Regions from separate parts of the Homo sapiens genome. Here region 2 is linked to region 1. The links come from fine-mapping of genetic effects on gene expression. A gene starts in region 1. The other region holds a variant in brackets. All regions are shown on one strand. Distances are between the middles of the regions.

The links. PIP is the estimated chance that this variant, and not a neighbour inherited with it, causes the effect.
Region 2: its variant is the best candidate, but not a certain one, in a credible set for the expression of BTBD3 in whole blood (TOPMed, PIP 0.72).

Annotation. Positions count from the first base shown.
Region 1 is chr20:11,915,245-11,920,633 of GRCh38, reverse strand. It overlaps BTBD3 (BTB domain containing 3), which reads right to left and starts at 2,741. Exons shown (of 4, transcript NM_014962.4): 1 at 2,033-2,741; 2 at 1,458-1,548; 3 at 798-916. The coding sequence starts at 2,358. It overlaps BTBD3-AS1 (BTBD3 antisense RNA 1), which reads left to right and starts at 2,033. Exons shown (of 3, transcript NR_186407.1): 1 at 2,033-2,320.
Region 2 is chr20:12,008,292-12,013,680 of GRCh38, reverse strand. No RefSeq gene overlaps it. Among named protein-coding and RNA genes, the nearest start is that of BTBD3-AS1, 92 kb to the right of the region's middle. The variant A/G (reference allele first, on the strand shown) is at 2,923.

The DNA of each region.
Region 1 (5,389 bases):
ACTTGGTGAACTACCACACTGTCTAGTACCGTACATGATAAAGAAGCTGATTCTATAACCTGTTTAACACATACTGGTGCCTGCAGAAGACCCACCAGACAGAAAACTATCTTTTTTATAAATATATAACGTATCTTTAAGTTTCATACTTCTGTATTACCAATGAAAGTTCTTCTGTATAAATCCACATGAAACTGTACGAGACTATCCATATCTTTCTAAGATTTCCCCTGTAATGTCAAATGCAAGTACTTTTTACCCTTGAGAGTGTCTGATTTTATATGAGTATGTATATGTATGTGTACACAAAGATCAGATTATTTCAACAGATGGTAAGTTTTTCATTTGCTCTTAGGAGACAATAACTCTTAGAATACTCAGAAATCTCCCAACTGGTGTTACTTAAATAAGGTACTTAACTTCTGAAATTGTGAAGCAAAAACATTTGTTTAAAGACTTTTTCACACACAATGCTTTCAGAGAGAACATCTTCTATTAAATAATGCTAATACCAGAAAGTTATTTGTCTTTAATTTTAAGTTGTTAAAAATCATCACTATACATGCCACTTGCTCCCAAATTCTACGTCAAGGTGCGATTATAAATGCTGCATAATTCCATATGCTTTCCACGGAAAGCTAAAGTGTTCTTTTCCGAAAACATTTACAAGGTAAGCAGCACCCTCTTTCTTCATCAGTCTTCTTTTCTGTTATGCAGAACTTAAATTTAACTGTGAAACCAGCAGGGTACAAATACAGCATAAACAAACTCTTTCCAAACACACGAATGATGCTTACTTCAGCATAGCGAGAAAAGCAGCAGGTTCGACATCTGGTATACGGATTTCATCTTTGTCCTCTGCAAGTTCTCCGTAAAACATCGCATGGAACACAGAGCTCCCAACAGCTAAAACATACTGTGTAGAAAGGGAAATCTTATTTCATACACTAAATTGAAGGCATTTCCAGCAAATCAATGCAGAAAAACAACACTAGGCAATCAGGTTTAGTAAACATAGCGTACCTAAAATCTACTGCTTTGAAAAAGCCAAGGTACACAGGGTAGCTTGCCATGGAAGCATAAGACCATGCTGCTAATTATTTCAAAGCTTTAAGAGATTAATGCACATGTCCCCTCATTACTAAATACATACAATAATAGCTTACATAACTAATTTCTAGGAGAAGGGTAAACATACGACTTTCCTGACCTGTCACAACAACTTCCCATGTCTGGAGAGTTAAGAGGGGATGTGTGAGATATAAAGCAGTATAGAAGGAAACAAAGAAAAAATTAAGCGTGGCCAAAGCCCTCTGGAGAGGGTGCGCTCTCTCCCTAATCGAGTGAAACATGCACTGCCTGACATCGGCAAGCTGCCCACACCAAGTTACAGGCTTATGGAAAGGGTCCCTCTTTGTAAACGTCAGGACTAAACCGGTCATGCAGCTGTTGCTTACTTTGTGTCCTGGCAACCGTTGAGTCCCACCTGGTGGCCCAACCACAAAATGTACATCTGCCATCAAATCATTATTGAACATCATCGCATTTCTATAAACAGAGGCAACTCATTAATTCACAGCAGCCTGCATTTTTAACATCCCCTTCCCCAACATACAAAACCCACAAAAGACTTGCAAGCTAAGCAACAGTCCAGTAACTTCAAGGCAAAACAACAAATAAAGGTTCTAACTAAACTGTTCATAATCATTGCAAACATAAGGGAAGTAACTAAAGTTTAAAATAAAAGTTATACAAACTTTTAATAAAGCTAAGGACAAATAAAAGGTTCCCATTTTCTATGGCCCATAGACAACCCTGTCACTTGAATGTTACAGCTTGCAAAAACATTTTTATCTAAGAGGAAAACAGCTGTACTGTTTTGGAAAAGATACAAGGCAATTTTCCATTACCAATAAAAAGCTTCTGGGAAAAGAGGAAACAGATTTGTGTTCAAATACATTACAGGTTTTGCAAAAGCAGAAACTTCAACACAGGAAAACTTTTAAAGTAAATAGACTAGCGCGGCACTTACCTCTCTCTAATGGTGGGATAAAGACCCTGCCAGTTTGGGGCCGGGATAAGGTTGTTGTTACTGAGATTCTGCTGGTGGTACTGCTGGACGCTGGTGCTGCTGGAGTTGGCTGGCTTTTTACGGGGGAATATATCAGCAGCCATCTTCTTCTTTTTAGTCTTCAAGGTAATTATTTCATAACAAACTGGTGGCAACTTGCTGCTGTTGCTACTGCTGCTGCTGGTATTTGCTTTCTTTGAGCTTTTCTTGGACCTGTTCTTTACCGTCTCTGGAAGCATCAAGAAGAAGGTGAGACATTTCATGTTCTTTTCCTTGTCATCTACCATGAGTACAGTGTGTCTCTCTTTAGAGTTAGATATCCCAAATTGGTTTGAACATCAAGGAAAAGAGATTAGCCCGGGCTAAGAGGTTAACTGAAACCAACAAAGCTGATATTTTGCTGCTTTTCTCAGCCAGGCAAGGTGACCTTTTCACTATGTTGAATAGAAACTGGCTTTAAGTTTTATCCAGTACTGGGTCTGTTAAATATATCCCCATCATGATTCCTGTTTCTCTTATTTGCTCATAAAAATAACTGTTTCCTAGATCACCTGAAAATGCTACACTGCAAAGATGACAGGCACAGAGCTGTAGCACTTCTTTTCTGAATTAGGTCAGCAAGATGGGCTGGAGCTGCGTGAGTCTGTTCAGCCGGCTGAAGTTGTGTGGTGAATGGATCGGAGGAGAGTAGGTATTACAGCCCTGCAGATGGAGTCAGACAGCCAGTGCTCCGAGCCAATAGCTGAAGTCACCAATCATGATTGGACCAAGCAAAACAGTGACACCTATTGTAACATGCATAGTTCTGATATTAAAGGAACAGCAGTTGCATTTTCTTGTCTACTGTATATTTAAACAAGATAATAACATATGAAATATATTTGACAACAGGAAGGGAGGAGTTTATGCCCACAGATTTCTCTTCAGTAGACATACATTATGTCCCCAGTTAAGCAGGATCAATTAACAAAGGGTAGGGACAGATATCTATATTTCTACTAAAATCTTTTTCCCAGCAGCATTTAGTTTCAAATACTTAAAACAAAATCCTCCAGTCTATAAACTGAAAAGGGCTATTAATAGCAAAACACATTTATTACACTTTAAAGGCAAAGGACGTTATTTTTCTTTTTCTTAGCCTCTTTTGAGTGCAAGTCATAGTCTAGTGCTAAAGAAGAGAACTGAGGCCATGTGTTCAGTTTACCTCCCAATGTTTTCTAGCTTCTATAATGGTCTTTGACAGGTGTCTCAGGTCACAAAATACTGTTAATTAGATTAAGATTATACCCGTACACCTAAGTACACTAAAGCATAAGATAAACTCTAGAAGTAAAAATAAGATTCAAATAAAAACAAATCTGATGATCAATGTTCAAAGGCTGTAATTCACTAAAAATATTTCAGATGGGGCCATGTTCAGGATCTCAAAATTCAACTTAACTGTTAAGGCTACATTTAGTCTTGTCTTAATTTTAAAGAATATAATCCACAACTTCTAAGACAGAACAAATAACAAGGCTATTCAAAATGATAAATGTTCGGATTCCACCTAGTTAAAATGCAAACAGGTTCTCTCTGCTTTGAATTAGAAGAATATAAGCTACCATTTGATTTTTGTAGGTGTGAATCCTCCAACCATTTCTAGCGTTGGTGAGTAAAAAAAACAAAAACACCGGCAATAGGTTCTGCATATGCTTATTTATTGTAAAGAGGGACTAATTAAAATATTTAATCTCACCCCTATCTATTTGGATCACGCTCATTTGTTCAAAGCACAGCAGCCATTTGCTACCCCTCAGGCAAATGCACCCTTCATGACCACAGCCCTCCTTGTTTTAACATTTGTCTGAATAATGACTACCTGACACAGTGAGGGCTCAGCAAATAAGAGTTACGATTGTTATTGTTATAATTAATAATCTGCTAAAGGCGGTTACCAGAAATCAGTCTTTAAATCCCTAGAACACTAAATTGAACCAAGAAATATCCTCTTTATTGTTGTTATTATTATTCTTAAAACCATTTGCAAAGCCTCTGTAAGAGAACCAGGGCCTGTAGCACAGTTACCTGTCTCCATTTTAGATGGATCCTGAAGCACTGCTTATTTATTATGATTATCATGTTCTCAACAGCAGAACACACACATACAGATACCTCCAAATCATCTTCATACACACTTTAACACACAATGTTAGAGAGGGATCTAGAAACCAGTTTAAAAAGCACATAGAGAAAGTCATGAAGAAACAAGTAAGCTCCTATTGACCTAATTATTCAGAATAGGGTTAACACTAAAGGATTTCTCTCTTGCTCAAGTGCCACTGAACTTCCTTGACCACTTCCTTGCAGGAAAGCTCCCATGCCAGGTAGGCCTTTCTGACTGGGATTAATCTCATAAATATTTCTAACAAATCTAGTATCTGGCTTTTCAGGTCAGAAGTAATCAATTAGAATGGAAAGGGAAACCAGCTGCTTTTAGGCAGACATACTATTAATTGGTAGCTGGATGGAGACAAAATAGAAAAAACATAAAACACAGATACAAGAACTTAGAAGGGTTTGTGATCTTTACTCATTTTGCATATGGCTCAATACCCATCACCAAGAAGTCTCCAAAACACATGGCTCTTACACCACTAAGTTAAAGAAAAAAAGTAAAGTGGATGTAACAGTTTGAGAAAGAGAAGTATGCAATATTGTAGAACATGTTTTCTAAAATTACAGATATCAGTTATTTAGAAAAATAAGTTTTGTAGAAAATTCTGACAATACTAGTTAAATGAAGTAGCGCTAAATCTGAATCATCTACAAGAGTGCTACAAAGAAGGGCATTATTACTCCAATGTATGTAAGGACTGATGAGCATGGCTGTTTAAAATCAAGACAGAAAAATTATCTGACGGCTACTTTTTCTTACCACGGTAATAAGGCAAGTAATGCAGGTTCTTGCTACTGAAAATGTAGTTGAAGGATCAGCAGCAGCATCTACAGGGAGCCTATTAGTCACCCAGAATCTCAGCCAGACTCTGGATCAGAATCTGCATTTCATACAGTATTCAAGGTTGAAAAAAACTTCACATAGATAACTACTGACTACTAGATGTCTTCCCAATGATCCAGTACCAACATCTGGTGCCATATGTTGCATTCAACTATTAAGTGAATTGAAAATAACTCAAAATAATTTAATTTAGTTTGGACATTAAAAACTTAACAACCCCTCACATCTTGTTCTGAAATTCTTCTGATTAGGCCCCAAATGTCAAATTCTAGGATTGAGGTGTGCAGACAGCCAACTGAGAGGGACCAAGATATTCT
Region 2 (5,389 bases), 93 kb before region 1:
ATCTGAAGCACTCCCCCAAATCCACCAACTTAAAACTGAAAAAGAGGAAGAGCTGGAGTTGCCAGCATTCAATAAATCATTAAATACTGTCAGCATGGTTGTCTGCTTGGGATGAGCTCTAAGCCTTGATTGAAATCTCTCCAATAAATCAAATGGAGCAAGGTGATCTTTGTAATTGCCCATAAATAACATTCTGCCCTTATATCTTAGACAGAAAACTAGAATTTGAGACCTGCTGGCAATGAGACAAGCCTCAGATGTCAATGCAGCACACACATCGGGGTGCCAGCCTTAATATCAGAGCAAGTCCAGATTTGAAGAAAATTGTCACAATTTTAAAAACAACAAGGACCGTCAAACTGTCAATGCTAGAGAATATTCTCACACAAAGCAAAATAGGATTGGCTATAATGCTTTCACACCTGCATTCTTGAGTCTAGTCCCTGGAAAGGTAATAAGTGCTGAGAAGGATGGGAATAGAAGAGAATCCAGAGAAACACATACCGGAAGGACCATGGCATTCCCCATTGGCCAGATTTCATAATTGGGATAACTATGGTGACTTTTAGTCGCAATGCAAATGCACTGAACATTTTCACTTGTATTCTCTTTTGTCAGCTCCAATGACTCATACGTTTGAAAAGCTAAAGTTTGTGGAAGCCTCATTTCCCACCGATGAGGTGATATGGGCTTAAATGTCATCATTGAGCAAACTGTGTCGCTCTTTAACTTCCTGGTCAGGACCCAGCCACTCTCGATCTTTCCAGGTAATAGCAAAATAGAAACAAAAACAAAAAACAGAATCTTAATTAAAACTATTATTTCCTTTAATATGAGAAACAAAAAGAGTGCTAACCAATTAATGAATTTAGTATTTGCACTCTGCTTAAGTATAAATGCCTAAATTATTTTTGTGAAGTCAAGTTAGAAGCCCTAACCTATTTATGAAATAAGGTTGTTGAAAATTAGGAAGTGAGTTATCTTCCTAGAAGGTCATTATACCAAATGGTATTGGTGCCCCAGTAACGGTGACCTGCTGCAGGCAGCTGCCAACTCCCTGTCTGTGGGCTTTCTCTCTGCTCCCACCAAACAGGGCTGAAATGCTGGTGAGTTCATACCTCAAGAAGCAGGCTTCGGCTAAGGAGGAATGAGAGTTAATAAATAAATACCCCAGCTTCTCACCACTTCCGAGGGACAATTCTGAAGTGTGTTCTACACTGCCCCCTAAAGGTTCCCAATGGAATTGAGCCTTGTCTCCCCCTGGTGTAGCCTGTCATTAACACACTGTTGGTCTCCTTCCCTTTCTGGTCTCAGCACCTTACTTCCCTGTAGGTACTTCTTGCAATCACAATTGCACATAATTGATTTGCATCTCAATCCTAGACTCAGGGTCTGTTTCTAGGGAAACCCAAGCTTTGATGCCACAAGAGGATTTTATTAGACCAAAAAGAGCTGCACAGATCTTGATAAAAGCTCCCTGTGATTCAGGAAATATAAAAATAAGACTTCCCCACCAGCTTCTAGGAAGTATACACTGCTCCTTCGATAGGCCAAAAAGGGAGAAGTCTGGACTGACATTCTAGTTACGGAGCGTTGGTGGATTGTCAAGTTGTCTGACATTAAGTTTGGAAAGATAAGGGAAATTATTTTTCTCTCAACTATGCAAGCAAAAAACTTAAAATAACTCCCTATAGTGTTAACCCTACTTAGAAACAGATGAATGGCATGCCAGCCTAAAGCCAGTTGTTTGCCCCATGCCTCTTAGAGAAAATTTTAATAGCAAACCTCTGTCAGGGTTTTTCTTTTCCCATTCCTGCCTCTGTTAGTCAGCCTATCAGATATACATGACCATTTAATCCATCAGCATAGTTAATGGATTCCTGAGATCCTTCACTCGTATTTGGAAGTGTCAAGGACACTTTGTGATGCCTGTGGAATTCAGGCTGGAAAGATTCACAGCGGCATGTTGGAGGTGGACAATGAAGTTCTGGCACTTTCTATCCCTTCGAAGAAGAAAACTAGCCTTTCAAGTCTGCAAGACATAGGGACAATAGACCCTTTGGGGCAGTCTGGAGGAGACCCTTTTTTCAGGATTTATACTGGGCAGTGTATCTGTGTGGGAAGGAAGGTGGACTGAAAGGTGAAAGATGCTGGTGCTGGCAAGCAGTGTGACATTGGTAGGTCAACTTGATCTTTCCTCCGCCTTGGTTTCTTTCCCTCTGAAATGAAGGGAAGGAAAGAAAGAATTTTTCAGCTCTTTAATTCTAGTCTCTAAGAGTAATGCTAATTTATTATTCAGGTCAGTGATGGTAATTGTTAAAAAAAAAACAAAAACAAACAAAAAAAAAAAACGGCTGTAATAATCTCCTAGGGCTTGAATGTGTCCTAACTGATGGATACTGGTTTGGGAAATTGTGCTTTTTGTAATTCAAAGTCCCCTTAGCTAAACTCTTTAAGGAATTCCTGTAATAGCCTTGCTGGTAAAATTCAGAAAGTATCTCTCTCTTTCAGCAAAATAAATTCAGAACCTGGGAACATAAAATGAAAAGGAAAAAATGTTCAAGACTTTCAAGACTTTACCAGGAAATGAAAGTTAAGACAATAAAGTTGCAAGTAGTCATTTTGAAAGAAAGTGTGTTCTCATCACCATGCCAGTTGGAAACATACATACTTTTGAGCCCCAACCACTAGTGGTGGGAGCAAACAGTGTTTGGGGTAGAGATGGGGCTTTAGTTCTAACCGTAATTCCCAGTCTCCCCATTATTTCTTAATGTCAATATACACGTTCTCAGGTTTCTTACTGATTATGTAAATTACTTTTCAAATCAACTAAAAGATACTCATCTTCTGCCGGGCGCGGTGGCTCACGCCTGTAATCCCAGCACTTTGGGAGGCCGAGGCGGGCGGATCACGAGGTCAGGA[A/G]ATCGAGACCATCCTGGCTAACATGGTGAAACCCCGTCTCTACTAAAAATACAAAAATTAGCCGGGCATGGTGGCGGGCGCCTGTAGTCCCAGCTACTCGGGAGGCTGAGGCAGGAGAATGGCGTGAACCCGGGAGGCGGAGGTTGCAGTGAGCCGAGATTGCGCCACTGCACTCCAGCCTGGGGAGAACGAGACTCCGTTTCCAAAAAAAAAAAGAAAGATATTCATTCTCTCCTTACCTCACTCCTTGTTTCTCTACAGTTTGCTATACTTACAATTCCTCACTGTAACACTTCTAAACATGGAATACCTCAACCTGTCCTCCTTTCACAGATGGAGAAAGTAAGTTTCAGAAGTACTAAGTAAGGAATGTAGCCAAGATGCAAACCTATGTGGGCCCAAATCATATATAATATTTTTCTCCTTTAAATGTTATTCATTTTAATTATTGCATATATAGTAATGTTCATTGTAACACAAAAAATAGAAGATGTATGAAGAAAAATATGAAAATTATTGTCTAACTTTAGAATCTTGATCTTTGGAAAGATGTTTATGACATGTTAGTCTTTTATTTTTATATTTTTATACAGATGCACCTTGGCTTACTGTGGGGTTATGTCCTGATAAAGCCATCATAAATTGAAAATATTAAAAGTTCATTTTTAGCTTATAATATTTTCAATTTATAACAGCTTTATCCAGACATAGCCCCATTGTAGGTGGAGTAGCATGCTGACTGCATATTGCTTTTGGACCATTGTAAAGTTGAAAAATCGTAACTCAAACCATTCTAAGTTGGGGACTGTCAGTACAGTCATATATGTCTGTCCCTTACTGGCCAAACTTCTGCAGATATTATCCTAGAATTTCTGCTAATTTTTCTTCTTCTGCATTTGCACATTTGATGAACCAGGGGTTTATTTTTTATATGGTAATAAGATAGGTATCTAGTTTTATTTTCTCTTCTATAGATAAGTTACCAAATAAAGCATCTTTTTTTCCAGTGAACTGAAATCCCACCTTTGCCACATTTCTGGTTCCCATTTGTACTTGGTTCTATGTCTGGACTATTCTATCCATTGACCTCTTTGTCTGCTCTAATAGTGAAATGTTTTGATTGCAGTGGCTGTAGTAGGCTGAGAAATGCCACCTCCCCCACTCCAAAAGATATCCACACCTTAATCACAGGAACCTGTAAATGTTACCTTATTTAAATTTATAAAAAGCTTCTGTAAATGTGATTTTGAGGATTTTGAGATGAGAAGATTATCCCGGATTATTGGCATAGGCCTTAAATGCCATCACAAAATATGTGCTTATAAGAGAAGACAGAGGGAAATTACAAAGACAGAAAATCACAGAGGCAGAGACCAGAGTGATGTAGCCACAAGTAAGGGAGTACTAGAAGCCAACAGAGGCTGGAAGAGGCAGGGAACGAAAGACCTCCTAGAGCCTCCAGCACAAGCATAACCTTGAGGATTCCTTGATTTCAAACTTCTCCAGAACTGTGAGATAATAAATCTCTGTTGTTTTAAGCCAAGTTTGTAGTAATTTACTACAGGAATAATAGAAAACTAATATAAGAGCTTTTTACATTTTTAATAAATGTTAAATCACATGTCTAGTCATTCCTTTTTCAAAATCTTGAATTTTATTTAGTCTTTCAATGGAATTATTAATTATTTTGACCAAGTCCAATTCAGATTAAGATTGCATTATATTTATATATTAAATTGGGATAAATTGGTATTTTTATGATATTAGTCCTCCCATCCAAAAATAAGGTATTTTTCAAAATCCCTTGTTTGATATACTTGAGTAAGATTTTATAATTTTCTTCATTTCTGACATATAACTAAAAAAAATGAGAAGGATATAAGTATTTTATTATTTTGTTACTAGTACAAATAATTTCTTCCCATTTCTAACTTGGTTATTCTGTTATAGAAAGAGGCTGTCGATTTTATGTATTTATCCAGTCCCTCTCACCCCCAATCTCTATGTTCTCCTAATTATTTTAATAGTTGCTTATAGTTGCTTTAGTGGAGTCTGTTTAATTTTGTAAGAATACAATAACTGAATCTCTTCCTTTGCTGTATTTATGCTGATTATTTTATTTACTATTTTCATTGCATCAATTAGCACTTGTCAAACACTGTTCAATTTCCATAGTAATAAAAGTCATCTCTAATTTTTCCATATTGTAACAAAATTGATTTCAGGATTTTACCATCCATTCTCATGTTTTCTGTTAAGTAAATAATCTTTATCATGGCTACTTCCCTTCTATTCAAATTTTACTTAAATTTTTTTTTTTAAGACTAGATGATGAATTTTATAAAGTAACCCTTCACTAGCTAGTGGTATAATTATATGGTTTTCCCTCTAATTTGTTGAAATATGGAGCCACGTAATATATTTCAAAATTTGAAATCTCTTTGAATTCTTCGAATAAGTACCATTC